Linked DNA regions of Homo sapiens: region 2 is linked to region 1. Evidence: fine-mapped expression QTL. Tissue or cell type: whole blood. Region 1 holds a variant in brackets; the other region holds the start of a gene. All regions are shown on one strand. Distances are between the middles of the regions.

Region 1 (2,752 bases):
GTAGATCCGCGTAAGCACCAGGAAGGGGGTGCAGGCTATTTTCAGACCCATCTTTCTAGTCCCACCCACTCCCAACCCTGATGACCTCGCCTCCCGTCCGGCCCGAGTCTCGCCTCTCGGGAGTGTTGGCTCACGTGTTCCTGAGCCTGTCTGTTTTTAGTTAGTGTCCGGCGCTTGGGACCGTGTAGGTTGCCGTGTGTGGCAGGAGTTTGAGGAACAGCATCTAGTGTTTAATTTATAAGAGCTTGCATTTAAAAAAGAAAGTAACCGCACGGAATGCATTGCTGAACTTGAAGTAAACGTCGTGTTCTTCCATTACGAAAGCCACCTTCTCAAAGTCCTGGCAGAGTTAAGGAAAGAGATGCTGGGAAGGCAAGGCGCCGGAGCCCCATCCTTTCACTCCGGGCAGGGGCAGCTGATGCCCTGCTGGGGGGCAACCCCTCACCCCTCACCCCTCTCGGATCTGCCAAGGCGGCGGCGGTGGGGGTGGCCCGCTGGTCACATACTGCACCGGCAGCCTTCACCTTGGCCTGAATGCATGTGCGGCTCTGCCTGCTGCTGTGGGACAGTGCTGTCGTGGTGTAGACGGTGGCCCTCCTCAAGGCCTCCCAGGCCTGGCGCCCAGGACATGTGACTGTGGCTGTTTTCGTTTTGTTTGGGTTTTTTTTTTTAATTTTAGAGATAGGGTCTTGCCGTGTTGCCCAGGCTGGAGCGCAGTGGTGCAACCATAGCTCACTGTAGCCTCGACTTCCCAGGCTCAAGCGATCCTCTTGCCTCAGCCTCCTGAGTAGTTTGGGCCACAGGTACACGCCACCATGCCTTGCTGATTTTGATTTTTTGTAGAGACAGGGTCTCACTACGTTGTCCAGGTTGGCTTTGAACTCCTGGGCTCAAGCGATCCTCCTGCCTGAGCCTCCCAAAGTGCTGGGATTACAGGCGTGAGCCACCACGTCCGGCCAGAATGATCCGTTATTTCCAGCAAGGAATAGCCTGAGAAGCACGGCAGGCCTTGAGTGGCGTTAGAGAGAAGTGCTGACATCTTGAGTGATGGAGAGGGTGGCCCTCTGGGCAGGGTGTGTCCCACAGGGTGCCTGTTTGGACGTGGGGTCCTTCCTCATGGTGAAATGGGTCTTTTGGGTTCCGTGGTCTCTGTTTGGGGCATCGGGGCACCTGTCCACCTGGGAGGTGGGGGTCAGAGGCCCAGCGCTGGTCCCAGGGCTGTTTTCTGGTGGTGAGACCTGGAGTCCAGGGGCTTTGATGTGAGTGTGAGCAAGAGGGAGTGGGCAGCTGGCCAGGCCACTGCTTCCATCATGCCTGGACCGTGGCACCTTCCTCCTCCCACCGTCAGCCCGTGTGGCAGGAGACTCAAGCTGTGAGTTTCGCCTGTGACTGAGGGCTCAGGGAGAGCCACTGGCATGTGGCAAGGCTGGGGGAAGAGGAGGGGCAGGCGCCCTGTGACTCAGGGTTGTGTCCAGCAGGACCTGTGCACTCTAGCCCCTCCCACACTCTCCCCTGGGCGTGGAGATGCCACGGCAGACACCTGCGAGTCTGTCTGTCTGTCTGTCTGGCCTCTGCTCCTGGCTTTTGATGGGGATGGCCTGAGAGTGCTCTTTGCCTGGGGAGAGGAGGAGGCTCTGACTGGTGTCTGCCAAGGGCC[A/CA]GTGGCACGTGCCCAGGTTCCTTCCCCTGCCAGGGCCACTTACCGGGTCATCAACACGGGGGGTGTACAGCAAGGGCGACGGTGGCTGGTAACAGGACGATGGTTGGGGAAGGGGTCCCTGGAGGGCAGTGGGCTGGAAGGTCAGGTTCTTTTTTTTTTTTTTTTTTTTTTTTTTTTTTTGAGACAGAGTCTTGCTGTTACCTAGGCTGGAGTGCAGTGGTGCGATCTCAGCTCACTGCAGACTCCACCTCCCGGCTTCAAGCGATTCTCCCGCCTTAGCCTCCCAAGTAGCCCGCCTACTTTTTGTATTTTTAGTAGAGATGGGGTTTCGCCATGTTGGCCCAGCTGGTCTCGAACTCCTGGCCTCAAGTGATTTGCCCGCCTCAGCCTCTGAAAGTGCTGGGATTACAGGCATGAGCCACTGTACCCCGCCGGGAAGGTCTGGTTCTGAAGGCAGTTTCTGGGATGGCGGTTTGGGGAGCCCGTCTCCTTCAGGGGTGAGCACTCCAGAGAAAGCAGGACCCCCACCCCTGGCTCGCAGTGACCTCAGATCCCAAACCTTCCTTCTCTGCTTCTGTGTCCTTGCCTGTGTGTGGTAATCGTGATCCCCGTGGATAGGTGGAGGTTGAGGGAAAACTGGGCCCCAGTGCAGGCCGTTCCTGCACGTCTCCCCGTCCCCACCTCGGCCCTGTGGGCTCCTGGCGCCATCACCTGCCGTTCTATCACCAAGAAGCACTTCCAGGCCCTGCTGAAACCTGGTGCGGGAGGCCGAGCCTGAGGAAGGTGGAGGGAGAGATGGGGGGATGAGGAGGGGACGGCGTTGGGGGCCGGGAGGGCTGCTCCCAGGGAAGGCGGGCGGCAGCCTCGTTGGTCTTCCCACGGCCGGTACCAGCCGCTGGACTCCTCCGCCAACACTTTCCTGACAGGCGCACGGGCTCTCTGATGCAGATGGCGGGCGCCCTGCGCATGCGGTCCCTCCACCTGGAAGGCAGCCCTTCTTCCCTTCATGTCCCCAGATGTTGCTAAAGATTCAGGAGATAGTGGAAATTGGAGTCGTCTCCAAAGGATCTCTTTGGGGAAAGGAGGCTGAGGTCT
Region 2 (2,752 bases), 23 kb after region 1:
GGAGAGCAGCTTCACACTGGCGCCACAGAGGAGCCCCACGTGCACTCCCCGGCCTGCATCCGGCTTGGGTACACAGGCCCAGAGGACTGGGGTGACTCACGGGCCCTGTGCTGTGATGTTGAGAGCTGAGAAAAACCTCCAAGGCCCTGAGCCCCATGCCCAGCCCTGCCTTGGTCCCCCAACCCCCAGAGCTTGGAGTCTGGGCCCCACACCCAGCCCTGCCTTGGTCCCTGAGCCTCAGAGCGTGGAATTGCTGCCCTGTGGACACTGGCTGGGAAGGCAGGTCTTCCCCTAGCACATGGGGACCCCGGCCTCGAGGGTGACCTCCCTACCCCGCCCCTGCCAGCCACCAAGCGCAGGTGCAGCGGGGGCCAGACTCCTGCCGGCCTCAGAGGACACCTGGCCCAGCACAGGCAGCTAGAAGGGCCGGTGGGCACCGGGGCCGGGAAGCCCCCACCTCACCACCTGAGGGCCCCTGGGAGGCTCCTCTGGCCTGGCTGGGCTGGGTCTGGGGCCGCCACAGGCCCCTCACGGGGCGGCAGAGGCAACTTCAGTGTCCCTGTTAGAGCAACACGGGTCCCTCCGTGGGGGGCTGGGTGCGGCCCCCTGCCGTGTATTTCCTCCCCAGGGAGTGGGGCCTCCCCGGGAGCTGACGCCACCACCCTGCTTAGCCCTCACAGGGCCCCAAGGTGTCCGAGTGTGTTGGGTCTGAACGCGAAATAAAGAAATCCTCTCAGCCCGCCTTTGCCAGCGTCGTCCCTCCCACCCCACCCAGACCACGTCCAACAGCCTGGGACTTTCGGGACCCTGGGGTCGGGGCACCGTGTGGAGTGAGAAAGGCGTGAAAGACAGCGGCTGCGGCCACCCAGGGCACCAGCCACATCCTCTTCCTCGTCCCCGCCCCTCAGCCTCCCTCCTCTGGCTCCTGGCTGGTGGGTCTGGGGGCAAGGCAGAGGCGCTCCAGGTGGAGGGGGGCGGGCCGGGGTGCCCACGCTGGGGTGACGCAAGAAGAAAACTCCCGGGCCTCAGAGTCGGCGCCGGAAACCTAGGTCTGGGTTTCCCTCGTGGTGGTTGTGTACTGAGGACCTGGAAGTGATCATATTTTGGATATATTCGGTTAAATAAAATCAGCGGTTAGGATTCACATCGCTGCTTCTTGCCTTTTAATGGGGCTGCTGAGCAAGATGGGTTCCCGTGGAGCCCGGCTGTGCCCCTCACCCCGATGGCGCTGCCCAGGCCTCGGGCTCCGCTCGGACGTGGGCCTGGCTGTGTCCGGGGTGTCCTGGGGCTCTCGGCCTCCCTGCTCCCAGCGTCCCTCCCGGCGTGCCCAGGCCTCGTCAGGGCCTCCTTCCCCTCCCTCGGCAGCTGAAGAAGTCCCCTTTGCCAGAGGACACGTGTCTGCGCCCTCTCGGGAGTGGGGCCCCTCAGATCCATCCAGAAGCAGGCAGTTGGGGGGCCCTGCGGGAGTGGGAGAGCTGAGGGCTAGAGTTCCATTGGCAGTTGGGCTGTGAAGCCGTGAGGTTCTGGGGAGAGAAGGAAGGTTCTGGAACGGCCCCGCTGCCCCACACCTGCCTCCCTGGGGACCCTGAGAAGGCAGCCAGACGAGGGCAGCAGCTCGTCCCTCAAGGCCCAGAGCTCTCACGGGACTTCCTCTGGCTCCTGACCCCCCTGGCCTGTGCCCAGCTCTGGGCAACCTCAGAGGCCCCAAGGCCCAAGCTACAGCCGAGGGCAGGGTGGCCGGTGCAGCCCAGCAGCCATGTCAGGTGACCAGAGCGGAGGAGCGGGGCCCAGGGAGGGGCTTGCCACAGGTGTGAGGGTGGGGACCGCTCTGCTTCTGACCCCGGGCTCCCTCCAGCTCGCTTGTTCCTGCCGCCCAGTGCTGTGTGTCTTCAGGCAGGGCCCTGGACTTGTCTGAGCCAAGCCCGTCTGGATCCTGTGTGACCCAAGGAGACGCGTTGAGCTCTGGGTGGTGGGCGAGGGTCCTGCGGGGGTTTGGGGCCTTGTTCCCGTAAGCTCCAGTGGGGGCCGGGCCCCAAGGGGCAAGCTCCCAAGATGCCTCCTTGTAGAGTTGGCTGACAGTGGACCCTCAGGGGCATCGGCCCCTTCCCAGCTGAGAGCCGTCACCCTGGAAGACCTGGGGCTCCTCCTGGCAGGAGGCCTGGCCAGCCCCGAGCCCTTGAGCCTGGAGGAGCTCTCGGAGAGGTATGAGTCCAGCCATCCGACATCCACGGCCTCTGTCCCCGAGCAGGACACCGCCAAGCACTGGAACCAGCTGGAGCAGTGGTGAGCCCTGCAGGGGGTGCTGGCGGGGGAGGACCACGTCGCCGCCGCCTCCGCCTCCACGGCGGGCACCGCCAGACTCGCCCACTCTCGCCCCGGCCAGGGTGGTGGAGCTGCAGGCCGAGGTGGCCTGCCTGCGGGAGCACAAGCAGCGCTGTGAGCGCGCCACGCGGAGCCTGCTGCGGGAGCTGCTCCAGGTGCGGGCCCGCGTGCAGCTGCAGGGCTCAGAGCTGAGGCAGTTGCAGCAGGAGGCGCGGCCGGCAGCCCAGGCCCCCGAAAAGGAGGCGCCGGAGGTGAGCGGCTCCCCCACCCACAGGTCGAGCTGCCCCTTTCCTGGGTGTTGGGGGCAGCTGCTTCTGGGCCTGGAGCCCAGCTCACCCCTGCTGCCCAGGCCCAGAGCTCCCAGGGGCCAGTGGTGCCGGAGCTGGGTGGACTCCAGGGGCAGGTGCCAGACCCGGGCCTAGGTCCAGCC

The links. PIP is the estimated chance that this variant, and not a neighbour inherited with it, causes the effect.
Region 2: it holds the start of CCDC154, and the variant in region 1 is fine-mapped to the expression of CCDC154 in whole blood (TOPMed, PIP above 0.99).

What each region holds. Positions count from the first base shown.
Region 1 is chr16:1,466,009-1,468,760 of GRCh38, reverse strand. All of the region lies in intron 1 of CLCN7 (chloride voltage-gated channel 7), which reads left to right. Among named protein-coding and RNA genes, the nearest start is that of CLCN7, 7.6 kb to the left of the region's middle. The variant A/CA (reference allele first, on the strand shown) is at 1,658.
Region 2 is chr16:1,443,327-1,446,078 of GRCh38, reverse strand. It overlaps CCDC154 (coiled-coil domain containing 154), which reads left to right and starts at 1,523. Exons shown (of 17, transcript NM_001143980.3): 1 at 1,523-1,763; 2 at 2,067-2,283; 3 at 2,384-2,573. The coding sequence starts at 1,757. It overlaps CLCN7 (chloride voltage-gated channel 7), which reads left to right. Exons shown (of 25, transcript NM_001287.6): 25 at 1-1,144.